Regions from separate parts of the Homo sapiens genome. Here all the other regions are linked to region 3. The links come from fine-mapping of genetic effects on gene expression. A gene starts in region 3. Each other region holds a variant in brackets. All regions are shown on one strand. Distances are from middle to middle. Region 1 overlaps CIST1 (colon, intestine and stomach enriched 1). Region 2 holds the start of PDE4C (phosphodiesterase 4C). Region 3 holds the start of IQCN (IQ motif containing N).

Evidence for each region. PIP is the estimated chance that this variant, and not a neighbour inherited with it, causes the effect.
Region 1: its variant is fine-mapped to the expression of IQCN in whole blood (INTERVAL, PIP above 0.99).
Region 2: its variant is fine-mapped to the expression of IQCN in whole blood (TOPMed, PIP above 0.99).

What each region holds. Positions count from the first base shown.
Region 1 is chr19:18,243,433-18,253,846 of GRCh38, forward strand. It overlaps CIST1 (colon, intestine and stomach enriched 1), which reads right to left. Exons shown (of 4, transcript NM_001396036.2): 2 at 8,632-9,039; 3 at 6,880-7,040; 4 at 6,602-6,745. The coding sequence ends at 6,698. It also overlaps a transcript of PDE4C not described here. Among named protein-coding and RNA genes, the nearest start is that of CIST1, 6.7 kb to the right of the region's middle. RefSeq lists an enhancer at 4,909-5,812. The variant A/AT (reference allele first, on the strand shown) is at 6,145.
Region 2 is chr19:18,223,779-18,231,778 of GRCh38, forward strand. It overlaps PDE4C (phosphodiesterase 4C), which reads right to left and starts at 2,660. Exons shown (of 15, transcript NM_001098818.4): 1 at 2,492-2,660. The coding sequence starts at 2,637. RefSeq lists silencers at 88-157, 2,544-2,603 and enhancers at 768-1,007, 7,773-8,000. The variant A/G (reference allele first, on the strand shown) is at 4,483.
Region 3 is chr19:18,269,840-18,278,857 of GRCh38, forward strand. It overlaps IQCN (IQ motif containing N), which reads right to left and starts at 4,613. Exons shown (of 4, transcript NM_001145304.2): 1 at 4,564-4,613. RefSeq lists enhancers at 5,040-5,334, 5,118-5,237.

The DNA.
Region 1 (10,414 bases), 26 kb before region 3:
TACTTGTTTTTCAGAAAGCCAGGAGTCACACAGTTACCTGGGGAATGGGGCTGCCATTACTTGCATGGGGAAAATTGGGGGAAGCACCAGGCTTTGGGTGGGTTCCAATTTCGCTGGAGCATCACATGAGTCCCAGATGGAGCCAGCAGAGGCAGCTGAATGTTTGGATCTGGAATTATGGGGGACCTGGCTCAACTGAAGGTGAAACAGACCTAACAGGTCTGGGGGCAGTTGCCAGCATCTGGCTGTTGGTCAGATGCGGGGGTGCTCCCAAGAGCCCTGATTCCTGGGACCCAGCCAGCTATCCCTCCCCCATCTGGAGTGGAATGGGGTAAGGATGGGGCTCCCAGGGACTAGGGATGGGGTATAGTGGGGTGTCCTCTGGTCTCAGCTGCAGCACACATCAACCTACCACTCCTGATTTTTTATCTTTTATTTTTGAGACAAAGTCTCACTCTGTTGCCCAGGCTGGAGTGCAGTGGTGCCATCTCGGCTCACTCCAACCTCCAACTCCCTGTTTCATGTGATTCTCCCACCTCAGCCTCCTGAGTAGCTGGGATTACAGGCGCCCACCACGATGCCAGGCTAATCTTTTTTTTTATTTTTTATTTTTTTATTTTTAGTAGAGACAGGGTTTCACCCTGTTGGCCAGGCTGGTCTCTAACTCCTGGCCTCAAGTAATCCACCCACCTCGGCCTAAAGTGCTAGGATTACAGGCATGAACTGCTGCACCTGGCCCTGCTACTCCTGATTAATTGCCCTCTTCATTAAGAAGCTGGGATGGGGATGGAGGGCCTGATGGGAGGCTCCTGGGTGGGGAAGGCCTTCGTAGGAGACCCTGAGCTACCTCCCCTTTTTGTTTTGTTTTGTTTTTTTTTTTGAGACGACGTCTCACTCTGTCACCCAGGCTGGAGTGCAGTGGCGCAGTCACAGCTCACTGCAGCCTCGGCCCCCTGGGATAAAGCAATCCTCCCACCTCAGCCTCCCAAAGTTCTGAGATTACAGGCGACCGCGACCACACCTAGCTGAGAGCTCCCTTTTGTTGTTGTTGGGTTTTGTTGTTGTTGTTGTTGTTGTTTGTTTTGGTTTGTTTTTTGAGACAGGGCCTTCCCTCTTGTCACCCAGGCTGGAGTGCAATGACGCGATCTTGGCTCACCGCAACCTCCGCCTCCTGGGTTCAAGCGATCCTTCTGCCTCAGCCTCCCGAGTAGCTGGGATTACAGTCATGCACCACCACACCCAGGTAATTTTGTATTGTTAGTAGAGACGGGGTTTCTCCATGTCGATCAGGCTGGTCTCAAACTCACAACCTCAGGTGATCCACCTGCCTTGGCCTCCCACACTGCTAGGATTACAGGCATGAGCCACAGTGACCAGCTTTTTTTTTTTCTTTTTCTTTCTTTCTTTTTTTATTTTCTGTTGAGATGGAGTCTCACTCCTTCACCCAGGCTGAAGTGCAGTGGCGCGATATTGTCTCACTGCAACCTCTGCCTCCCAGGTTCAGGTGATCTTCCTGCCTCAGCATGCCGAGTAGCTGGGACTGCAGGCGCGTGCCACCATGCACTGCTAATTTTTTGTATTTGTAGTAGAGACAGGGTTTCACCATGTTGGCCAGGATGGTCTCGATCTCTTGACCTCATGATCCGCCAGTTGTGGCCTCCCAAAGTGCTGGGATTACAAGCATGAGCCACTGTGCCTAGCCTGTTGTTGGTTTTTTGTTTGTTTGTTTGTTTGTTTGTTTGTTTGTTTGAGACAGAGTCGCACTCTGTTGCCCAGGCTGGAGTGCAGTGGCACAATCTCGGCTCACTGCAACCTCCACCTCCTGGGTTCAAGCAATTCTCCTGCCTCAGCCTCCCAGGTAGCTAGGATTACAGGTGCCTGTCACAACACCCAGCTTATTTTTTGTATTTTTAGTAGAGACAGGGTTTCTCCAGGTTGGCGAGGCTGGTCTCAAACTCCTGTCCTCAAGTGATCCACCTGCCTCAGCCTCCCAAAGTGCTGGGATTACATGTGTGAGCCACCGTGCCTGGCCTCTTTGCTGTTCCTTAAACCTGCCTCGGGGCCTTTGCATGTGCTGTGCCATCTGCCGGGGACACCCTTCCCCCGGCTGTTAAAATGGCCAGCTGCTTGTTTCCATCCATACTTCAGCTAAAATGTCAACTTCCCGGAGAAGGCCCTCCTGCCCAGCTCGAGCAGTCTCATGAGCACTCACCCAACCCCACATTTTCTCTTTTTTCTTGCCTTAACATCTGTCTCATGAGCCCTGTCATTTTGGGGCCTGTCACTGCAGTTCTGTGTCCTACACACTCAGCATGTGGCTTGGCACACAGCGGGTGCCCATGTGCAGGTGAAATGACTGATGCTGTGAGCTGAGTGTGGGAGAGGTCATCAGAAGGTCCTTTATTTATTTATTATTATCATTATTTTTTGAGACGGAGTCTCGCTCTGTTGTCCAGGCTGGAGTGCAGTGGCGCAATCTCAGCTCACTACAAACTTCACCTCCCAGGTTCAAACGATTCTACTGCCTCAGCCTCCCGAGTAGGTGGGATTACAGGCACCTGCCACCATGCCCAGCTAATTTTTTTTTTTTTTTTTTGAGACAGAGTCTTACTCTGTCATCCAGGCTGGAGTGCAGTGCAGTGGTGTGATCTTGGCTCACTGCAACCCCTGCCTTCCGGGTTCAAGCGATCCTCCTGCCTCAGCCTCCCAAGTAGCTGGGATTACAGGTGCCCGCCACCACACCAGGCTAATTTTTTTTTTTTTTTTTTTGAGATGGAGTCTCGCTCTGTCACCCAGCCTGGAGTGCAGTGGCATGATCACGGTTCACTGCAGCCTCGACCTCCCGTGCTCAAGCAGTCCTCCTACCTTAGCCTCCCAAGTAGCTGGGACTACAGGCGTACACCACCATGACTGGCTATTTTTTTTTTTTTAATAGAGATAGGGTCTTACTGTGTTACCCAGGATGGTCTTGAACTCCTCGGCTCAAGCGATCCACCTGCCTCGGCCTCCCAAAGCGCTGAGATTACAGGCGTGAGCCACCGCGCCCAGACTACCCTTTTCCTTTCCTCTTCCTGCAGATGGCTGGAGTGTGGATAAATAAACATTAAGGCATATGCAGCTACGCCTGCCCTAGGAGACCCGAGGCTCACCCTGAGCACCCTCATTCCACACAAAGTTAGCCCAGTTTTTTAACACACAAAAACGCTGAGTTCTGGCCAGGTATGGTGGTTCATGCCTGTAATCCCAGCACTTTGGGAGGCTGAGGCAGGTGGGTCACTTAAGATCAGGGGTTCAAGACCAGCCTGGCCAACATGGAGAAACCCGTCTCTACTAAAAATACAAAAATCAGCCGGGCGTCAAGGCTTGTGCCTGTAACTCCAGCTGCTCGGGAAGCTGAGGGAGGAGAATCACTTAAACCCGGGAAGCAGAGATGGCAGAGAGCAAAAATCACATCACTGCACTCCAGCCTGGGCGACAGAGTGAGACCCTGTCTAAAAAACAAAACAAAACAACAACAGAAACCACTGAGTCCTAGAGAGGTTACCAGCCACTCAGGTGATGGGCCTGGGATTTGAATCCAGCCCCCGCAGGGTTTTCCTCTTGGCTCAGTTTCCCAGAATGGGGGCACTGGCTGTGATCTGAAGTTGTGACCTCATGACCCACTGCTCAGGCCCGGGGGCAGCCAGGTCCCCTTTTCTTGGGTGAGTCAAAACCTTGTGTCCAGGCACAAGGGATCTCCTGCTCCCAAAAGCAGTGGCCACAGCCCTGGGCTGGACAGTTGGATCAGGTCCCCAATTCCCTGGTGGCCTCTCTGGGCCTCAGTGGGCCCCTGTGAGCTGGTCCCCGAGCAGCTCTAAGTGTTTCTTTTTTTTTTGGTGGTGGGGACAGAGTCTCACTCTGTCTCCCAGGCTGGAGTGCAGTGGCGTGATCTCAACTCACTGCAACCTCCGCCTCCCAGGTTCAAGCAATTCTCCTGCCTCAGCCTCCAAGTAGCTGGACTACAGGCATGAGCCACCATGCCCAGCTAAGTTTTTTGTGTGTCTAGTAGAGACGGGGTTTCTCCATGTTGGCCAGGTTGGTCTTGAACTCCTGACCTCAAGTGATCCGCCTGCTTCGCCCTCCCAAAGTGCTAGGATTGCAGGCGTGAGCCACCGCGCCTGGCCAGCTCTGGGTATTTCTCAGTAGAGGGTCTCTGGGATCTCCCCACCATGGCCTGGGCCACCCCCACCCCCTACTCACTTCACTCAGCAGGAAGGAGAGTGTTGTCCTGCTGTGCCTCATGCTGCTGGCATCTGTGGCCCTGCAGAAATGGTTCTGAGACCTCCAGACCACTGGGAGCCCAGGTACGGCCCTGTGGGACACCCCCTAGACAGAAGCTCACTCCCACACTCTCTGCACCCTCCCTTGAACCCCAAGGAACTAAATCAAGGTGGCATGGACCACACCACAGGCACCAGTGTGAGACACCCGCCCGGACCTTGCAGCGGTCCCCATCCAGGGACAGCAGCCAGGTGCCCAAAGCCCCTCCCCACACCTGTCCAGGTTCAGCAGCCTGGGTGGGGGCATCAGGACTGGCGAAACAAGGTCTCCTGGCCCCAGACACATGGGAGACCCATTCAGCTCCCAGAGTGGCTCTGATGGTTTCAGGGGGATTACGAGACCCCAGCACCTCTCCTGAGACGCCCCCAAGCTCAAGAATAAGCTTGCTCCAGGAGGCCCAGGCATGTCTGGCACTTACCACCACTGCGGAGTCCTGCCTGGGTCCCATGACCTGCTGGCTAGTGAGGGAAGGAGGGGAGAAAATGACCTGACCAAGAGGGAGGCCCAGGGCTCCCTCAACACCCACTCAGCGGAGCCCCTTAACTGTCTGGGCACCAGGCCAGGACATAATCCACACACTTTCCTTGGGTGAGGCTCCCAGTGGGTGGAGGGCAGAGTGTCCAAGAGGGCCTGAGGGGACGAGAGAGTGGCCAAGAGGGTGGCCGGGCATGGAGGGGGAGGGGCGGGGAGGGCAGAGGAAGGAGGGGGGAAGGAGGGAAGGGAGGCGTAGGAGTGAGGAGGCTGGGTGAGAGGTGTTAAGATTAATTGTTCATGTGTTTGCATATGATAGAGTGAGAGAGAGGGCGCGAAGGAAGATGGTGGTAGGGGACCAGCAGCTCTGGGAAGGGGGGGATTTTATCAACTCAGGGTCTAGGATATCTGCTTCCAAGCAGAGCCCATGGGGTGTGGCCTAAGGAGCTTGGGGGCTCCAGGAAAGTTGCCCGCTGTGCTGTGCCGCCCCGGGTAGATCAAAGACCCTCTCTGGTCATTGGCTGGGCGCGGTGGCTCACGCCTGTAATCCCAGCACTTTGGGAGGCGGAGGCGGGTGGATCACGAGATCAGGAGATCGAGACCATCCTGGCCAACATGGTGAAGCCCCATCTCTACTAAAAATACAAAAAAATTAGCTGAGTGTGGTGGCAGGTGCCTGTAATCCCAGCTACTTGGGAGGCTGAAGCAGGAGAATCGTTTGAACCCAGGAGGCAGAGGTTGCAGTGAGCTGAGATCGTGTCACTGCACTCCAGTGTGGGCAACAAGAGCGAAACTCCATCTTATTAAAAAAAAAAAAAAAAGAATGGCTTGAACCCAGGAGTCAGAGGCTGCAGTGAGCCAAGACTGCACTACTGCACTCCAGCCTAGGTGACAGAGGGAGACTGTCTCAAAAAAGAAAAAAAGAGAGAGAGATGGGGTTTTGCCATTTTGCCCAATTTGGTCTCAAACTACCAAGCTCAAGCAATTCACCCACCTCAGCTTCTCAAAGTGCTGAGATTACAGTGGTAAGCCACCATGCCCGGCACCCCCAGTTTTGTTTGTTTGTTTTGAGACAGGGTCTCACTCTGTCACCCAGACTAGAGTGCAGTGGTGCAATCTCAGCTTACCGCAACCTCTGACTCCCAGGCTCAACCAATTCTCCTGCCTCAGCCTCCCTAATAGCTGGGATTACAGGCACACACCACCACGCCTGGCTAATTTTTGTATTTTTAGTAAAGATGGGGTTTCACCATGTTGACCAGGCTGGTCTTGAACTCCTGACCTCAAATGATCCACCCACCTTTGCCTTCCAAAGTGCTGGGATTACAGGTGTAAGCCACTACGCCTGGCCCT[A/AT]TTTTTTTTTTTTTTGAGATGGAGTCTTGCTCTGTTGCCCAGGCTGGAGTACAATGGGGCGATCTCAGCTCACTGCAACCTCCGCCTCCCTGGTTCAAGCGATTCTCTGCCTCAGCCTCCTGAGTAGCTGGGATTACAGGCACCTGCCACCACGCTCAGCTAATTTTTGTATTTTTAGTACAGACAGAGTTTCGCCATGTTAGCCAGGCTGGTCTCAAACTCCTAAGCTCAGGAGATCTGCCCGCCTTGGCCTCCCAAAGTGCTGGGATTACAGGTGTGAACCACCGCACCCAGCCAAGTGAGCTCCTGATTCTTATCTGTCCCTGCCTTGAGTCTGTGGATCCCCTGAAAGTAAAGACATGGTCCCCACTGTGACCCCAGCACAGAGCCCAGCACATAGTAGGTGCTCAGTTAATGTTTTCACACGAGTCCATAACTCGTGTTTTCACACGAGGCCTTGGATGAATGGTAGGGGCTTTATTTCCTCAGGTTCTGCTCCTCCCCAGGAACCCCAGCCCCATCCATGCCCCCATCTCTGTTGGCTCCTCAGGGCTCACTCCTGGAGGTGGTGGGCAAAGGACAATCTGTCATTCACGGATCCCTGAGGAAGGAACACACAGGGAGGCATTCAGACACCAAAAGGCTCTGCAGCCCAGGTTGGCCCTGCTTGGGATAGCAGCTCCCCCAACCATGCCTTGGCCCCAGGGCTGAGCCCCCAGCCCAGCCCTACCTTACCATGGACACCTCGTCCAGGTTCTCAAACTTGGACTCATTCCGGTGACAGAATCTCACAGCCATGACCACAGACCCGATGAGCAAAAGAGACACCAGCAAACACACGACCACCACCACACTCGGGTTCCTGTGTAACTCACGGGGCCCAGTGTCACCTGGAGCTGGGGAAAGGAACTCAGAGTCAGCACTGGGTCCTATTCCCCACAAGCCTAAGACACCCACCAGGGCCCAGAGCCTTTTAAAATCTGTTCTCAGGAAGCTGACCTCTCTTCCCTCTCCAGTTGAGGCTGCCACTTTTTAATCATGTATTTTAGAGACAGGGTCTCACTCTGTCACCCAGGCTGGAGTGCAGTAGTGCAATCACAGCTCACTGCAGCCTCTATCTCCTGGGCTCAAGTGATCCTCCCACCTCAGCCTCCCAAGTAGCTAGGATTACAGGCATGCACCACCATGCCTGGACAATTTTTTTTTTTTTTTTTTGAGACAGGGTCTTGCTCTGTCACACAGGCTGGAGTGCAGTGACGTTATCTCAGCTTACTGTGACCTCCATCTCCAAGGATCTAGTGATCCTCTTACCTCAGCCTCCCCAGTAGCTGAGACTACAAGTGTGTGCCACCACACCCAGCTAATTTGTGTACATATTTAGTAGAGATGGGGTTTCACCATGTTGCCCAGGCTGGTCTTGAACTCATTGGCTCAGGTGATCCACCCGCCTCGGCCTCCCAAAGTGCTGGGATTACAGGCGTGGGCCACTGAGCCCAGCCTAATTTTTAAATTTTATTTAATCAATTACTTTATTTATTTTTGAGATAGAGTCTTTTTTTTCCCCCCCGAGATGGAGTCTTGCTCTGTCTCCCAGGCTGGAGTGCAGTGGTTCAATGTGGGCTCACTCCAACCTCCGCCTCCTGGGTTCAAATTATTTTCCTGCCTCAGCCTCCCAAGTAGCCCGGATTACAGGCGCCCGCCACCATGCCTGGCTATTTTTTGTATTTTTAGTAGAGACGGGGTTTCACCATGTTGGCCAGGCTGGTCTTGAACTCCTGACCTCAGGTGATCCTCCCACCTTGGCCTCCCAAAGTGCTGGGATTACAGATGTGAACCACCACGCCCAGCCATTTTTATTTTATTTATTTATTTATTTGAGACAGAGTCTTACTCTGCCACCCAGGCTGGAGTGCAGTGGCACGATCTCAGCTCACTGCAACCTCTGCCGCCTGGGTTCAAGCGATTCTCCTGCCTCAGCCTCCCGAGTTGCTGAGATTACAGGCGTCTGCCACCACGCCTGGCTAATTTTTGTAGTTTTAATAGAGACGGGGTTTCACCATTTTGGCCAGGCTGGTCTTGAACTCTTGACCTCGTGATACACGCCCCCCCCGCCCCCGCCCCCGCCCTCGGCCTCCCAAAGTGCTGGGATTACAGGCTTGAGCCACCGCGCCCCGCCATTTTTAGATTTTTTTGTAGAGACAAAGTCCTGCTATTTTGCCCAGGCCCAAATACATAATGTATAACCTGTCTCCCCACCACAGCAAGTATTAGTTTCTCTCTTTGCCCATCGCTGCGTGCCCAGCCGTGACATACACTAGGCACTTAATAAATGCGCATAGCATGAAGAGCTTTAGACAATGGAGCAGAGACAAGAAGCCCTTCCTAGAGCATTCTCGGGGCTGTACCTCCCCCTGGTGGTCAGTTCCAAAACTGCAGCCTGTTACACCCGCCACCTCCCTACAAACACCCAAATCTCTTAATACTCACCTGGGCCAGGGGGCTCCAAGGTCTGGTCAGTGGAGGTCAAGGGCTCCGTTCCGGGGCTGTGGGAAGTGGGGCTCCAGTGCGGGGTCAGGGATTCGGAACTGGGGAGGGTGGAATGGGAAGAGGGGGTGAGCTCTGCACTGGGGGAGCCAGAACTAGGGTGCGTGATTGTCTCTGGTTGTGGGGAGGAGGGTATCATCCTTGAATCTGTGGAGCTGGGGCTCGGCTGGATGGTAGGGGTTGCCCCTGAACTTGAGGGGCTGAGGTGGGTTATGGAGTCTGTCTCCAAACTCATGGTGCTGGAGTAGGATTTGGGGGGTTCCCCTGAACTGTGGGTGCTGTGGGCGAAGGGAGAAGAAATCAGAGAGCTGACAGGTGATGTCTCCATACTGTTCTCTGAGGTCACAATATCTGGAAAGAAAAACTGGGCGCGGTGGCTCACGCCTGTAATTCCAGCACTTTGAGAGGTCAAGGTGAGAGCATCACTTGAACCCAGGAATTAGAGACCAGCCTGGGCAACATAGCGAGACCCTCTCTCTCTCTCTTTCTCTCTCTCTTTTTTTTTTTCTTTTTTTGAGATGGCGTCTCGCTCTGTCACCCAGGCTGGAGAGCAGTGGTGCCATCTCAGCTCACTGCAACCTCCACCTCCTGGGTACAAGCAATTCTCCTGCCTCAGCCTCCCAAGTAGCTGGGATTACAGGCGTGCATTACCACGCCTGGCTAATTTTTGCATTTTTAGTTTCACTGTGCTGGCCAGATTTGTCTCGAACTTCTGACCTCAGATGATCCACCTGCCTTGGCCTCCCAAAGTGCTGGGATTACAGGCATAAGCCATCATGCCCAGCCTTTTCATTTTTATTTTTAATTAATTTATTTTTTTGTCCAGGTCATAGGGAGACCTGAAAGATTTAGGACACCATGTGAGCTCTCAGTGGGAAACTGAAGCTCCCACTCAAATTCATGCTCCTGGTCTGAAGTCCCACAGCCTGGGTTCAAGTGCAGATCAGCGTTCCCAGTCCTCTTGGCTGAGAGCTCTAGAAGCCCTTTGGATATGGGAAGTGACTGCATCCCAGGCAGTGCTGGGCAGCTCCTTTAAATTTTCTGGGACTCAGTTTTCTTTTCTGTAAAATGGAGTTCATGTGGAGTTGGTGCCTCTGACAGTTCATCAGTCAGGTTCATAGTGGGTGTACACAAGCTGGGTGCTCCCAGCTACTGGGGAGGCTGAGGCGGGAGGATTGCCTGACCCCAGGAATTCAAGGCTGTAGTGCGCCATGATTGCGCCACTGCACTCCTGCCTGGGAGACATAATGAGACCTTGTCTCTACAAAAAAATAAAACAAAAATTAGCCAGGCATGGTGGTGCATGCCTAGTCCCAGCTACTCAGGAGGCTGAGGTGGGAGGATCGCTTGAGTCCAGGAGTTCAAGGCTGCAGTAAGCCATGATCATGCCACTGAACTCCAGCCTAGGCAACAGAGTGAGACTCCGTCTCAAAAAAAAAAAAAACACACACACACAATAGAATAGAAACACAGTGGGTGCACAGTGACACTCAACTATAAAGATCCACCTATGAGCTCAGAGAGGATCAGCCCTAATTTTCTCCAGGTAGCCCTAGGCTAACCTCAACTTTAATGGAAGACACAAAGACACAGGCGCTGGGAACATGTCTCCGGAACCCACCCTTCTACGTGTTGGTCCAGCTACTTCCTGGCTCACATCCCATCCCAGGCATGGAGTCCAGGGACCAGGCTGAGGGCAGGTAAGCAGTTCATGAGCCACCTCCCA
Region 2 (8,000 bases), 47 kb before region 3:
ACACGTGGACTGGAAACAGCTTCTTGGGCTCTTCTACCTGGAGGAGGCCGGGGTTCTGCCTAGCTCCTGCGTGCGCCTTAGTCTAGAGAGACCCCACTCCTAGCCAACTTGCTCACACCCTTGGCTACCTGCCACGCCCCCAGCGTTCCAGGCTCCACCCTCAGCCCATAAGGCTCCGCCCCACGGCCGCCGACCACGCCCCCAGCTAGCCGGGTCCTGCCCTAGGCTCCCCCACTCCTCCACTTCATCTTCAGCCTGAACGTTCCGCCTGTTATCTTCCACCTCCGGGTCTTTGCACAGGCCGTGCTTTCTGCCCGGCCCACCCTCCTCCCTCTCCACACTACCTGTCCCGTTCTACCCTCAAACCCTGTCTTTCCCTCTGGCTCCTCCTCTTTGGGGTCAGAGGTCAGAGAAAGGGCGTAGGGCAAGAACTGGGGCGCTAGAGAAGGCGGTGACCTGGGGGTGGGTTTTCAAGAAGGGCAGGCGGAAGCGGCACCGACAGGAAGACAACCGGGACCGCCTGAGACTCGGAGCTCCCGGCCGAGGGCCAGTGTCCGGCTGGTCCCGGCCAAGACTTTTGGGTCAAAGGTCACCGTATCCCCGTCCACGAGCTGGGTCGGCACCCCGCGTAGGCTCAGATCTGGGTAGAGGTGGGGGATTTGGCAGCATTCGGTCCAAGTATGACCGGGTCTGAGTTGGGTCTGATCACGTCGAATTGGACTTGGTCACGAAGAGTTTGTTCGATGAGTTCGGGAGAATTCGGCTACGTCCGATTGAGCTCGGGAGACTTCGGATAAGTTCGAGCTTGTTCGCCTAAGTCCGGTTACGCTCGGTCTGCTTCGAACAAGTCCGGGTGACGCTCGGGCCGGGTCGGGCATGTTCGGTCACGTCCGGCTACATGAGGGCTAGTTCGGGCATCTCCGACTAAGACCGGCCGCGCTCGGCCTGTTCCGTCCGACTCCAGCGGGTTTAGCAGCACCGGGATGAACCCCACGGCCAGCCGAAGGGGCGGGGCTTCTTAACCCTTCCCTGGCCCGTCTGGGGTGCGCCGTGGGCGCTGTGGTGCAATGGGAGACGCTCTTAGGGGCGGACTGGAGGCGGCGGATAACCCAGATCTGCCCCTCGAGGGGGAGGCATGCGGATCGCGACCCCCTACCCCTCTCTCGGCTCTCCCCAAGGGTTCCAGAAAAGCGCGTCTGTGGACAAATAGGGAAACTGAGGCCAGGAGCGGCCACAGGGCGTGCAAATCCGGATCCCGGGCGCGGAGGGTTAAGGACTGGGCCCGGGTTTTCTTGGGGCGGGGGAGGCTGTTTTTCTTTCTGCTCTAAACTTAGCCGGGAGCGGCGGGGTCAGGCTGTGGTTCCATGACGCGGGCGGTGCGGGGGTAGAGCCCCCCGGCTGTGGGAACGGCGCGGCTGCCCATTGGCCAGGGGGGTAAACTGAGCCAGGGAGGCTCGGACTTGGGTTCGGGTCTGGCCTGCGCGGGGCCGGCCCTCGTTCATCCTCACTTCTGAGTACCCGCGACGCGCCCTCGACGTCCCTGCGCTGTCTCTAGCGCCTTCAAAAGGGAATGTGCTTCGCTAGTGTTTGGTGCCCCGAGGTCGCTCTCCAGGACACGGAACCCCCACTCTCCCACTCCCTGGTTGAAATGGAACCACCAGGAACCACGGTCATACCTTCTCCCTCCAACCCCAGCTATGACCTTGGAGAGGGACCTCCCCTCTCAGCCTTTGGGTGCCAGACTTACCAAGTGGGTGCCAATTCGGCGCGGACCAAGCGCAGGATGCCAGCCACAGTCGGCGCCCACAAGCCCCACTCCGAACCCCAGCCTTGCCCCCATCCCTCCCCACGAGGTCACAGTCGTTTCTGGAAAGGCAGGGATTCGAACCCAGAGGGGTGGACCGAGTGCTTAGAGGATGCAGCGCAAGCAGCTGCCGGGCGCAGGCGCGCGCTCAGCCTGGGACTCCCGAACGCCCTGCCTCGAAAACCCCCTCAATTCAGGTCTTCCTCCGTGGACACCCAGAGTTCATTGTGAGGCCCCCAGGGCATCTCTTTGCTGGCACTGGGACAGGATGCTGGTGGGAGGGGGCACCAAGGGAAGGAGTGCCCCTTCCCCCTCCTCCCACTGCCAGGACGCACAGCCTGCCTGCCCCAGGCCGGCGAGGGTCAGGAGGAGACGTGAGCCTCAGCCCGTCCCACTCTGGGCCTCACAGCTGGAAGGAGACAGACGGCTGGTCCCCTGGGCCTATATCCAGGCGGCGGGTGGAGACAGACGGAGACAGAGAGAGACAGAGTCACCAACTGCGAGACAAAAGTAGGGTAAGGTAGGGTAGAGGGAGAGAGATACAGAGAAAGCGAGGGAGAGGCAGAGCGTCCAAGCCCGGACTCCGGCCCCGGCCCCAGCTGTCCCTGGCCTTGTCCCTGTCCCTGCCCTTCCCACCTCCACACCGGGCGTCCCGGTGACCCCGCCAGGCCCTCTGTCCAGCCTCACCACAGCGGATGGGCCACCGTGAAGCGCCGCTGCAGGCGGATGCTCTGATTCACCAAAAGCTTCCTGAAGAGCCCGGGGGAGCCGCGCGGGGATCCCCGAGGGGAGCCGGGCCCGGGGACCGGGGCGGGCGCGGGGGGGCCCTGCATCGCCAGGACTGCGTGGAGGCTGGACCGAGCGCCGGCTGCGCGGGACCTTTTCTGGACAGCTGCGGGGGCGGGGCCCAGCGGGGAGGGGGCAAAGGGCGCATCGGCCCCGCCTCGAGGCCGGCGGCTCCCTGACGACCCCCGGGACAAACGGGGAAACTGAGGCACAGAGTCAGACGCAACTCTCTGCTCCTTTTTTTTTTTTTTTTTTTTGAGACGATCTCGCTGTGTTGCCCAGGCTGGAGTGCAGTGGCACAGTCCTAGCTCATTGCAGCCTCAACTTCCTGGGCTCAAGGGATCCTCCTACCTCAGCCTCCCAAGTAGCTGGGACTACAGATGCACACCACCACGCCCGGGCTAATGTATTTTCTGGAGAGATGGGGGTGTCTCTTTATGTTGCCCAGGCTGATCTCGAACTCCCAGACTCAAGTGATCCTCCTGCCTCAGCCTCGCAAAGTGCTGGGATTATAGGTGTGAGCCATTGCGCCAGGCCCAACTGTACTTCTTTAGAGGGCTGCCCCTAAGATCTCAGAGCCTGGATCTTACTCAGCCTTCCTCGGCACGTCCCTGGTTAGTGCAGCTTGCTGGGCCAATAACTGCTAAAAAGTGTAGAATGAGGGAGTCAGAAAGCAAGGTGCCCAGAGAAACAGCTGTCTTGCCTTCCATTATTGAGGGCATCACCGAGGTATAGAGTTTGCCAATGTCCGATCCCACGCAATGTTTCTAATCCTCCTCTGCCCATTTTCCAGATGGAGAAACTGAGGCCTAGTGCCATCAAACAGCGCACCAGAAACTACAAACCCTTAATCCTTTGCCAAGTGGGGAAACTGAGGCTTCCATGGACGCGGTCACGGGCATGGGTCTTTGTTGCAGAAAGCGAGACCCAAACTCAGGGCCCCCTCTCCCAGCACCCCTCCACGCAACTCCCCACGTGATCCCCCACCTGCTCTGACATTCCCCAGGCCCTGTCTCTGGATGCCTTCACCTCTCCTGCTGTCTCCTCCTAGACAAACATCCGCACATCACCTCTGCCAAGTCTTCTGTCCTGCGAAACCTCAGCCGCCCACCCCTGCCATCAGAGGGACCTCACTGTCCCAGGACTGGGGGGGGCCTCTGGTGTCTGGGAGGATTCCCAGAGTCTGTACCAGGTGCTCTACCCTCAGAATGCTGGAGTCAGGCTGGCCTTGTTCCACTTTACAGAAAAGGAAACCAAGGCTTAGCATGTGTCACACAAGGAGGAGGGACCTAGAAACAGCCATGTCACAGGCAGAGGCCCAGGGGACCTCCCAGCAACTGAGGCCTGACCGTGCCCCTTGCTGTGGAATGACCTCTGTCTCTCAGCCTGGGCCTTCCCCCCGGGGCGGCTGCCTCAGTCTTGGTGTCCCCAGACATGGTACCCATGTTTCTGGCAGTCCTGGAGAAGCCCATTGATCAGGGATCCCACAGGAGATCCTGAGGCAACCATGCTAAGGCCAGATACATGAGAGTCTCCCCATTCTACAGATGAGAAAACAGAGGCTCAGAGGAGGAGTCACACAGCCCAGAAAAACAGAGAGCCTCAGGTATCTGGCCAGGAAGCCCCCCTAACCCCCGCAGTCTTGCAACCAGACACCTGGCGGGAACCAGACCTCGCTGTCCCCAAGACAAAAATACCATCGTTGTCTGCTGGGGCCAGACCTAATTATAGCCATCCCTAGGGGACACATGCTGCTAGGATTGGCCTTGTGGGGACACTGGAGCCAAGGTCTCAGCAGTCTTGACACCACCTCCCCGCCACTGTGAGAGAAGTGACAATAGTTACATGTCCCCAAGGAGAAACCGAGGCACAGAGATTCAGCCCCTCCCCCA[A/G]AATCACAGACATAAAATAGGAGGCTAAGACTAAACAAAATTATGTAAACTGAGTGCTTCAAAAACATGCAGCACTCAGCCAACAGCAGTGAAGGGAAAAGTCATTGGATTTTCAGACGAAACCTACAAAGTGTGGACTACTATTCCCATTTCGAGGATGGGGCTACTGAGGCACAGAAAGGCACAGTCATTTGCCTAAGGACACACAGCCATAAGGTGCAAGACTGGGGTCATTTGAACCCGGACAGGTAGTGTTCTTCCCAGCCTGGGTCCTCCCGCACTGGATGCGTTAACTCATTTCATCCCCTCTGTAGTCCCAGGGGCGAGTCTCACATTAATATTTTATCAATAGGTTTACTATTAATGTTTCATCCATATATTTAATTTTAAATATTTTATTAACAGTTCTAACAGGAAGGTGTTAATTAATAGCTGTTCGGATGGAGAAAGAGTCACAGCAAGGGGTGGCCACAGAGCCAGGACTCAGCATTCACAGCCTGGCTCCTACCAGGCCCTGGGAGGCTCTCCAAGCCCCGCTGGGTAAGGGACAAAAGCTGAAAGAGGTTTGGACAGAAGCACCCCTACCCTGACTCCATCCCTGCATTACTGCATCTCCTGTAGAGGTGCCCAGTAGTCTCTGGTGCCTTTATTTATTTTATTTTATTTTATTTACATATTATTATTATTTTTTGAGAACAGAGTTTTGCTCCTGTTGCCCAGGCTGGAGTGCAATGGCACAATCTCGGCTCACTGAAACCTCCGCTTCCTGGGTTCAAGCAATTCTCCTGCCTCAGCCTCCCAAGTAGCTGGGATTACAGGCATGTGCCACCATGCCAAGCTAATTTTTTTTTTTTTTTTTTTTTGTATTTAGTAGAGACGAGGTTTCACTATATTGGTCAGGCTGGTCTCGAACTCCTGACTTCAGGTGATCACCTGCCTCAGCCTCCCAAAGTGCTGGGATTACAGGCGTGAGCCACTGTCCCTGGCCTTACTTTTTTGAGACACAGTTTCACTCTGTCGCCCAGGGTGGAGTGCAGTGGCGCAATCTTGGCTCACTGCAACCTCTGCCTCCTGGGTTCAAGTGATTCTCCTGCCTCAACCTCCCAAGTAGCTGGGATTACAGGCATCTGCCACCACGCCCAACTAATTTTGGTATTTTTAGTAGAGACGGGGTTTCACCATGTTGGCCAGGCTGGTCTTGAACTCCTGACCTCAGGTGATCCGTCTGCCTCAGTCTCCCAAAGTACTGGGATTACAGGTGTGAGCCACTGCGCCCATTCTGATGCCTTTAGCACAGCACTGCCTCAGTTTCCCTCATTTGAATGTTCCCTTCTCTGGGCAGGCACTTTTCTCCACTGCCACCAGGTGGCCCCAGAGAGATTTTTTTAAATGGGTGTTTTTGACCATTTTACAGATGAGTAAACTGAGACGTGGAGAGGGGAGATGACTTGCCCAAGTCCCCACGGAGGAGTCAAGCAGAATGAGCAGGGTGGGGGCCAGGTCACATGTGTAGATGTTCGCATGGGTCAAATCACACACTCCTTTGCTGCAGACCCTCCCATGGCCCCCCATTGCCCTCAGATCTGAATTCACACCTCCCAGAGGTCCCATGTGGCCCATCCCCACCTCACTTCTCTTGGCTTACACTGTTCCAGTCTCTCCCCACTCCTCACTGTTCTCTGAATCAGCCAGGCTTATTTCCACCCCATGGCCCTCACCTGAATGCTTGTCGCCTGCTGATGCTTTGTCTTTTGGGTTACAGTTAGAGTCACCTCCTCCGAGAAGCCCTCCCTGACTAGCCAGGTAAATGCCTCAGAGCACCCTCCAGCCATGGATACAACTTCACATTTATTGTCATGATTATTTGCCTGTGAGTCCCTGGAGAGCAAGGCCAGGTCTGCCATGTTCCCTGCTGTTCCCTCAGTACTTGGCACTTAGTAGATGCTCAATAAATGCTTGTAGCGGCTGGGTGTGGTGGCTCATGCCTGCAATCCCAGCACTCTGGGAGGCCACGGTATGTGGATCACTTGAGGTCAAGAGTTTGAGACCAGTCTGGCCAACATGGCAAAACTGTCTCTACTAAAAATACAAATATTAGCCAGGCATGGTGGTGGGCACCTGTAATCCCAGCTACTGGGGAGGCTGAGGTAGGGGAATCGCTTGAACCCAGGAGGCAGAGGTTGCAGTGAGACAAGATTGTGCCACTGCACCCGGCCTGGGCAACAGAGTGAGAGACTCCATCTAAAAAATAATAAATAAATAAATGCTTGTAGCATAAACAGAGAGCCTCTCCTTCCATCCTCAAGCCACACTGATCCATTTTCAGCTCCTCACATGCCTGATCCTCTTGAGTCTGAGGCTTTGCACATTCTGTTCCTTCTACTTAGAATACCCTTCTTGCACTCACCCTAGCTGACCTCTTTCCTCCTGCAGGCTAAGCTTAAATGTCACTTCTCCCAAGCAGTCCTCCCTGACTCCCACCCCACTGCTGGGTCTGGAGCCTCCTCTGGGCTTGTTCTCTGACCTTTCCCTATCAACCTGTGCCTTCTCCACCTGGTATGAGTGTCTCCACCATCAGCCTTAGGGGACACAGCTTCTTATCCATGGTTGCGTCTCCAACACAGGGCCTGCCACCCAGTAGGTGCTTAAATGCCTTCTCAACAAAATGCTTAGACCCTCCCATACCCCTGTGATCCATCTGGGGCTGTGGGGAAGCACATTCCCCCAACAGTTTCTAGGGCTGAGTAAAGAGCCACAAGCTGGGGACCCAGTGTGTACCAGGCTCAGGCACAGAATATTCACCTCTCTGATGAGGACGCCGAGGCTCCGGGAGGCACCACGGCTTGCTCAATACCACACAGCAGGTTGGCCTTGGGGCCTGGCCTTGAACTCAGTTTCGCTGGGCTTCCCCCTGGGGTGAACCCCTACCCTCATATCAGCACAGAGAAGCACAGTGGGCCACATGCATGCTCATCCACGTATGTGTGACTGCAGCGCATACGATGCGCAGAACGACGTGTGTGTGCACACACACGTGCACAGGGACACCCAATCCACCGCTCCTGCCTCCCAGAGCCAAGCGGGGGCTTCCCCTAGAAGAGCTCATACCAAGGCTCTGTTTGTTCTTTCTTGAAAATGGAAAATCATGAGTCACCAGAAGGGATGGGGAAGGAGGAACTAGAAGCCGGGGCGGGAGAAGGGGCTCCTGGGTCACCTGAGAACAGCTCCAACCCCTCTGGGCTGTGGGAACCATCTACCCCAGATGCCTCCCAGGCTGCTGGAGGGCCAGGCTGGGGGCGAGAGGCCAGGCTTGCTGATGGAGTCAGAAGCCAGTGGCCCCTAGGGGGTCCATGCACCAGGACGCAAGAAAGCCAAGCTCCAGAGCAGGGAAGTAACCCATCCAAGGCCACTCAGCCTGGACTGAAATCTGGGATGCTGGTCCAGCTGACTTGGTTCTCCCTCCAACCTAAGGAGGGCTTGGAGTTCCTGGACCCTCCTTCCTGGCCCTGGAGCCTCCA
Region 3 (9,018 bases):
AGAGGAAAAACTGGAAGAAACCAAAATTATCAATGGAGACAGGCTTAAATTAATCATACAAGGGCATGATATCCAGGCATCAGAAATGGCGTCCAGGCTGAGCACAGTGGTTCTTGCCTGCAATCCCAGCACTTTGGGAGGCCAAGATGGGAGGATCACTTGAGGACAGAAGTTTGAGACCAGCCTGGGAAACTAAGCAAGAACTGTCTCTTAAAAAAAAAAAAAAAAAAAAAAAAAAATTGGCCAGGCGTGGCTCACGCCTGTAATTCCAGCACTCTGGGAGGCCGAGGAGGGTGGATCACCTGAGGTCAGGAGTTCGAGACCAGCCTGGCCAACATGGTAAAACCCCGTCTCTACTAAAAATACAAGAAATTAGCCAGGCATAGTGGTTGACGCCTGTAATTCCAGCTACTCAGGAGGCTGAGGCAGGAGAATATCTTGAACCTGGGAGGCAGAGATTTCAGTGAGCTGAGATCGTGCCATTGTACTCCATCTGGGGCAACAAGAGCAAAACTGTCTCAAAAAAAAAAAAAAAATAGGCCGGGCACAGTGGCTCACGTCTGTAACCCCAGCAATTTGGAAGGCCAAGGTGGGTGGGTCACTTGAGGCCAGGAGTTCCAGACCAGCCTGGGCAACATGGTAAAACCCGTCTCTACTAAAAACATAAAAATTAGCCAGTCATGGTGACATGCACCTGTAGTCCCAGCTACTCGGGAGGCTGAGACAGGAGGATCATTTGAGGCCAGGAGGTTGAGACTGCAGTAAGCTACGATGGCACCACTGCACTCGAGCCTGAGCGACAGAATGAGACCCTATCTCTTTTTTGTTTTTAAAACAGAGTCCCACCCTTTTGCCCAGGCTGGAGTGCAGCGTCACAATCTCGGCTCACTGCAACCTCTGCTTCCCAGGTTCAAGTGATTCTTGTGCCTCAGTCTCCCAAGTAGCTGGGATGACAAGTGTAAGCCACGGTGCCTGGCTGAGACCCTGTCTCAAAAAAAAAAAAAAAAAGATTGTGATTAAAGAGTAAGTATAAGATAAAAGGTAACCTGGGAGGCCAGGCATGGTGGCTCACACCTGTCATCCCAGCACTTCGGGAGGCCAAGGCAGGTGGATCACAAGGTCAGGAGTTCGAGAACAGCCTGGCCAACATGGTGAAACCCCGTCTCTACTAAAAATACAAAACTTAGCCAGGCACAGTGGCATGCACCTGTAATCCCAGCTACTTCAGAGGCTGAAGCAGGAGAATCACTTGAACCCGAGAGATGGAGATTGCAGTGAGCCGAGATCACGCAACTGCACTCCAGCCTGGGCGACAGAGTGAGACTCTGTCTCAAAAAAAAAAAAAAAAAACCAGGCGCAGTGGCTCACGCCTGTAATCCCAGTGCTTTGGGAGGCCGAGGTGGGTGGCTCACGTGAGGTCAGGAGTTCAAGACCAGCCTGGCCAACATGGTGAAACTCTGTCTCTACTAAAAATACAAAAATTAGCCAGGTATGATGGCAGGTGCCTGTAATCCCAGCTACTTAGGAGGCTGAGGCGGGAGAATCTCTTGAACCCAGTAGGCAAAGGTTGCAGTGAGCTGAGATCATACCATTGCACACCAGCCTGGGTGACTGAGCGAAACTCAGTTCAAAAAAAAAAAAAAAAGATAAAAGGAAACTCTATGTGGTACTTTAGGGCTGAGGGAGTATCCCCAAAAAAGGGGCAAATTTGGAGAGCATTCAGACTTCCTTGGAGAAAGTATGGTCCCGCCTAACAAGTTAACGGAGATAATTGCTGGATCGGCCAAGCCAGAGCTGGTCTGGAGTTGCAAAACAAGCAAAAGGCCCACCCTCCAGGGTGCAGATGTGGGAACAGGTTATCAACAGTTGGTGCTCTGGATGTGCACTGGAAACCTAAGTGTTGCTGGGGCAGGAGGCCTTCAATGTGTATGGGCCACCGTGGGGGCTCTGTTCGTTTATTATCATTTATTTATTTATGATTTTTGAGACAGAGTCTCACTCTGTCCCCCAGGCTGGAGTGCAGCGGCACTCAGCATCTTGGCTCACTGCAACCTCCGCCTCCTGGGTTCAAGCGATTCTCCTGCCTCAGCCTCCCGAGTAGCTGGGATTACAGGCATGAATCCCACCACACCCAGCTAATTTTGTTTGTTTTGTTTTGTTTTGTTTTTGGAGGGACGGGGTTTCACCATGTTGGCCAGGCTGGTCTCAAACTCCTGATCTCAGGTGATTCGCCTGCCTCGGCCTCCCAAAGTGCTGGGATTACAGGCGTGAGCCACCGCGCCTGGCCTTTTTTTTTTTCTCTCTCTCTTTTGAGTTTTGTTCTTGTCGCCCAGGCTGGAGTGCAGTGGCGCGATCTCCTTTCACTGCAACCTCTACCTCTCGGTTTCCAGCGATTCTCCTACCTCAGCCTCCTGAGCAGCTGGGATTACAGGCACCTGCCACCACGCCTAGCAAATTTTTGTATTTTTAGTACAGATGGGGTTTCATCATATTGGTCAGGCTGGTCTCAAATTCCTGACCACAGGTGATCCACCCACCTTGGCCTCCCAAAGTGCTGGGATTACAGGCATGAGCCACCGCGCCCGGCCTTAGGGGCTCTGTTTTTTGTGTGTGTTGAGAGGGCTGCAGAAAGGTTTTCACCAGGTCAAGACTGCAAAGTCACAGGACCACGTTCTGGATCCAGGGCTCGGGCAGGCTTCACCTGGTGTCTTCACACCTCTATCCCTAATGCCTCACCAGCGCCCTCTATTGAGAAATCTTAGCATTGTGCTCACTTTTTTTTTTTTTTTGAGACGGAGTCTCGTTCTGTCTCCCAGGCTGGAGTGCACTGGCACCATCTCGGCTCACTGCAAGCTCTGCCTCCCGGGTTCACGCCATTCTCCTGCCTCAGCCTCCTGAGTAGCTGGGACTACAGGCGCCTGCCACCACGCCCAGTTAATATTTTGTATTTTTAGTAGAGACGGGGTTTCACTATGCTAGCCAGGATGGTCTCCATCTCCTGACCTCGTGATTCGCCCACCTCGGCCTCCCAAAGTGCTGGGATTACAGGCGTGAGCCACCGCGCCTGGCCGAGCATTGTGCTCACTTTAAACAAGACATAACGAAAGAAATTCCTTTGTTTATCACATATTGAAAGGGTCCATTCGGAGACAAGAGGCAATGCATGGATAATTGACACACATATATTTATTATTTTTATTTTTTTGAGATGGACGGAATCTTGCTCTGTTGCCCAGGCTGAAGTGCAGTGGCACGATCTTGGCTCACTGCAACCTCCGCCTCCCAGGTTCAAAGTGATTCTCCTGTCTCAGCCTCCCGAGTAGCTGGGATTACAGGCACTTGCCACCACACTTGGCTAACTTTTGTATTTTTAGTAGAGTTGGGGTTTCGCCATGTTGGCCAGACTGGTCTCGAACCCCTGACCTCAAGTGATCCGCCCGCCTCGGCCTCCCAAAGTGCTGGGATTACAGGCATGAGTCACCATGCCCGGCCTAATTATTATTATTATTCTCTTTGAGACGGAATTTCACTTTTGTTGCCCAGGCTGGAGTGCAATGGCGCCATCTTGGCTCACTGCAACCTCTGCCTCCAGGTTCAAGCGATTCTCCTGCCTCAGCCTCCCAAATAGCTAGGATTACAGGCATGCGCCACCACACCTAATTTCGTATTTTTAGTGGAAATGGGGTTTCTCCATGTTGGTCAGGCTGGTCTTGAACTCCTGATCACAGGTGATCTGCCCGCCTTGGCTTCCCAAAGTGCTGGCGTTACAGGCGTGAGCCACCTTGCCCGGCCTAATTTTTGAATTTTTAGTAGAGATGGGGTTTGACCATATGGGTCAGGCTGGTCTCGAACTCCTGAGGCAGGAAAATCACTTGAACCCGGGAGACAGCAGCTCTGGGAGCTGAATGGGCCCATTCCAGGGGCTGAGGTTTCATCAACCAAACGGTGCAGCTCTTTAGAGGAACTCAACCAGAAGGGGTGAGAAACGGGATTGTGGGGGATGAGAAGAAGGAACAGGGGCCCCCTGGACACAGAAGCCAAGCGACTGGCTCGGTAATTTTGAGTAAACCCCTCTGAGCCTCAATTTCCCTATCTGTCACAAGACATAAGATCACCATCCTCAGGTTGCCAAAGAGACACAACAGGCTCAGCTGGGCGCAGTGGCTCCTGCCCGTAATCCAAGCACTTTGGGGGACCAAGGTGGGAGGATCGCTGCAGCCCAAGAGTTTGAAAACAGCCTGGGCAACATGTCTCTATTTATTTAAAAAAATAATAATAAAGAGACATAACAGGCTCTCCATGATGTCCCCCATCACAGGTGAACAAATCCACCATCAAGGCTTTAGAGGTCCCTAGAGCCCCTGCTGTGAGGGGCCAAGGAGCTGACCCATCATTTGCAGTCACCCAGAAGGCCCAGAAGGGCTCTAAAGGCACTGGGGGCCAGAGGAGAACGACAGGGTCCCCCACGAACCCTCGCAAACAAGTCCTCCACCAGCCCCACTCACCCGCCCCTGAAGCCACCAGCCCCACTCACCCGCCCCCAAAGCCACCAGCCCCACTCACCTGCCCCTGAAGCTAAACCTAGCAGTCTGAACGGCCAGTCTTGGAGCCCTGGTGCCGCAGCAGCTTTGTGACTCAAAGCCAAGTTCTGGCCAATCCCTGGCAGCTCTTAGGGGGTGGGGATTCTAGAAGGCACAGCCAGAGGTTGGGGAACAGGATGCAGGGCAGGGCCAAAGGTCATGGTGGTTGCTACCTACACCGGCTCATCCTGAGTACAAAGGGTTCTCAGCACAGAGGGAACCCCAAATCTCCCCCTCCATGTACCTAGAGGCAGTTTCAGTCTTTCATCCCACGGGCATTTTCTGAGCACCTACTATATGCTGGAATTTGCCCCATGTCTGGGGATACAAACAACTCAAAGAATTTGAGGCTGTAAAATGGCTAGATGGGAAGGGACCAAAAAGGGGGTGCAACGGGCCAGTCAGGGTTCTCACTGATGTCTTGGGTGTGGCTCTGAGACTGCGGGCTCCTTGGGGTGGGGCCGGACTTGATCTCTTGGGATCCCCACTGGGCCCGGCAAAAGTGGGTACTGACCCTGAGCCGCAGCGCTATAAGGGGAAGTCAGGCTGCTGTCCTGGATCACCTCCTGGGGCTGGGCTGGGGCCCAGCATGAGTCACCGCTGGCTGGGCCAAGGCTGACACGCACCTTGGACTCAGTGCAGCTGGCTCCAGCCAAAGCCAGCCTGGCCCAGAAGCCTCTGCCTGGCTTCCTTGGGGAGCCGCTGGGGGTTGCCGGGACAAGAACCAGCAGGGGTGCCTGACCTCCCTCTGCAGCGATCACCCCCTCCAAAACCTTCCCTATACTGTGGGTGTGACTTTGGACAAAATCAGGGACATGGCAGATGGCAGTTGGGTGGGGTTTATATCCTTTGTCTGTTTTTTGAGATTGAGTCTCGCTCTGTTGCCCAGGCTGGAGTGCAGTGCTACGATCTCAGCTCACTGCAACCTCCACCTCCCCGGGTTCAAGCGATTCTCGTGCCTCAGCCTCCTGAGTAGCTGGGACTACAGGTGCATGCTATGACGCCCAGCTGATTTATGTAGTTTTAGTAGAGATAGGATTTCACCATGTTGGCCAGGCTGGTCTCAAACTCCTGACCACAAGTGATCCGCCTGCTGCGGCCTCCCAAAGTGCTGGGATTACAGGCATGAGCCACTGCACCCAGCTCATCCTTTGGATGTTTCATCAGAACAGGTCCCTTCTGTGCTGTCAACGAGCTAAACACAAACTGGGAGTTCTCAGGGCAATTGGAGACCGTAGGAGCCCAGTAAGGTGCTGGCCTAGCCTGAGGGTTACTAGGGACAGGCTTCCGAGGACTGTGCAGCTGAGGCTGGGAGGTGGCGCTCAGCTGCATGACTGGGGGAAGAGTAGCTGGCACAGAACTACAGCTGCAGCCGTGCAAAGACCCTGAGGCCAGGAAGGCAGGATATTGGGAATTTGGGTGGAGAGGCTCCTGAAAGGAGACACTGGCCAGCCCAGGGACTGGTGCAGTCAGGACTTTTTCCAAAAAGGTTTCAAGTAAGGAGTCAGATCTGTGATTTAGAAAAAGCCCTTCACATCACAGCTCATGCCTGCTTGACTCCCCCATCAGACTGGAGGGCTGGCCTCAACTAGGTGTCAATAAATGCTGGGGACGCTGGGCGCGATGGTTCATGCCTATAATCCCAGCACTTTGGGAGGCCAAGGCGGGCAGATCGATTGAGCCCAGGAGTTTGAGACCAGCCTGACCAATATGGCAAAACCTCGTCTCTACTAATAATACAAAAATTAGTCAGGCATGATGGCAAATGCCTGTAATCCCAGCTACTTTGGTGGCTGAGGCAGGAGAGTCACTTGAACCCAGGAGGTGGAGGCTACAGTGAGCCAAGATTGCACCACTGCACTCCAGCCTGAATGAGAGACCCTGACTCAAAAAAAAAAAAAAAAAAAAAAAAAAAAAAGAGGCCGAGTACAGTGGCTCAATACCTGTAGTCCCAGCATTTTGGGAGACCGAGGTTGGAGGATCACTTGAACACAGGAGTTCAAAACCAGCCTGGGCAACATAGATCCCATCTCTACAAAAAAATTATTTAAAAATTAGTAGGGCGGCTGGGCGTGGTGGCTCACGCCTGTAATCCCAGCACTTTGGGAGGCCAAGGCTGGCGGATCATGAGGTCAGGTGATCGAGATCAACCTGGCTAACACGGTGAAAGCCCATCTCTATTAAAAACACAAAAAAATTAGCCAGGCATGGTGGCAGGCGCCTGTAGTCCCAGCTACTCAGGAGGCTGAGGCAGGAGAATGGCGTGAACCTGGGAGGCGGAGCTTGCAATGAGCCGAGATGGCGCCACTGCACTCCAGCCTGGGCGGCAGAGCAAGACTCCGTCTCAAAGAAAAAATAAAAATAAAAATTAGTAGGGCATGGTGGCGTGCACCTGTGGTCCCAGCTACTTGGGAGGCTGAGGTGAGGCAGGACAATCAGTTGAGCCTAGGAGGTCAAGGCTGCAGTGAGCTGTGGTCTTGCCACTGCACTCTGGCCAAGGCAAGAGCGAGACCTCATCTTGTAAAGAAAAAAAAAAACAAACTTGTGGGGCCCAGTGGCTCACGCCTGTAATCCCAGCACTTTGGGAAGCCAAGGTGGGTGGATCACCTGAGGTCAGGAGTTCGAGACCAGCCTGGGCAACATGGTGAAACCCTGTCTCTACTAAAAATACAAAAAAAAATTTAGCCAGGCAGGGTGGCTCACGCCTGTAATCCCAGAAACTTTGGGAAGCTGAGGCGGGCAGATCACGAGGTCAGGAGATCGAGACCATCCTGGCTAACACGGTGAAACCCCGTCTCTACTAAAAACACAAAAAAATTAGCCGGGCATAGTGGCGGGCGCCTGCAGTCCCAGCTACTCAGGAGGCTGAGGCAGGAGAATGGCATGAACCAGGGAGGCAGAGCTTGCAGTGAGCTGAGATCGCGCCACCGCACTCCAGCCTGGGAGACAGAACGAGACTCCGTCTCAAAAAAAAAAATTTAGCTGGGCATGGTGGCAGACACCTGTAATCCCAGCTAATCAAGAGGCTGAGGCAAGAGAATCGATTGAAACTGGGAGGTGGAGGTTGCGGTAAGCCAAGATCAGGCCATTGCACTCCAGCCTGGGCGACAAGAGGAAGACTCAGTCTCAAAAAAAAAAAAGAAAAACAAAGTACGTCCTCCACCTCTCTGCAGGGCTCCTCAGAGTCCTTTCGCCTTAGACCACTTGGGGGCAGGCAAGCAAGAGACCTGGGTTTGAATCGCTGCTCTGCCATTTAACAGGGGTGTTGGCCGGGCACGGTGGCTCACGCCTGTAATCCCAGCACTTCGGGAGGCCGAGGCGGGCGGATCATGAGGTCAGGGGATCAAGACCATCCTGGCTAACACGGTGAAACCCCATCTCTACTAAAAGTACAAAAAATTAGCCAGGCGTGGTGGCGGGCGCCTGTATTCCCAGCTACTCAGGAGGCTGAGGCAGGAGAATGGCATGAACCCAGGAGGCGAAGCTTGCAGTGAGCCGAGACTGCGCCACTGCACTCCAGCCTGGGAGACAGAGCGAGACTCTGTCTCAAAAAAAAAAAAAAAAAAAAACAGGGGTGTTGGGCAAGTCTCAAAACCTCCCTTCCCCTTCTCTACTAATTGGGGGCCACAGTAGGTACCATCATTGAGTGCGGTCACTGTTGTCCGTCCCCTGAGCACCTCCCAGTTCTGACTTCTGACCTGAGAGATGTTATGCTGGATGCAAACACCCGCATCTCACAGCACAGGATGTAGAGGCCATCGGGGGAGGAGGACTCGCCTGAGATCTCACAAATGCCAACTGGAACCTAAGCTGGGTCCCGGTCTCCCAACCAGTGACACTCTGCCCGAGATGTGGTTCTTGGTCTCTTGTGTGTCAAGACACCCCTGCTCTCCCACCTCAGCCTCAGTTCCCTTCAGCAGGTTCCTTCAGGCCCTGCTGAAACGTCTGCATGACCTCCCACAAGGCAACGTGACAGCTAAAAACCAAACCCTGGCCGGACGTGGGGGCTCACGCCTGTAATCCCAGCACTTTGGGAGGCCGAGGCGGGTGGACCACTTGAGGTCAGGAGTTCCAGACCAGCTTGACCAACATGGTGAAACCCTGTCTCTACTACAAATACAAAAAAGTAGCCGAGCATGGTGGGCACCTGTAATCTGAGCTACTTGGAGGCTGAGGCAGGAGAATCACTTGAGCCCGGGGAGGCAGAGGTTGCAGTGAGCCTAGATGGCGCCACTGCACTCCAGTCTGGGTGACAGAGCGAGACTCTGTCTCAAACAAATGAACCCCAACATAGCTGTTGGTGGCAAGGCCTTTCTCCATGACCAAGGGACGGTGGCCATTCTCTCCAAGTTTCTTCATCTGTAAAATGGGTACAATTCAGTGGCCCTCCCTAACAGGGCTGGCTAGGTACACATGGCCACCAGCCCTACTTGCTGTG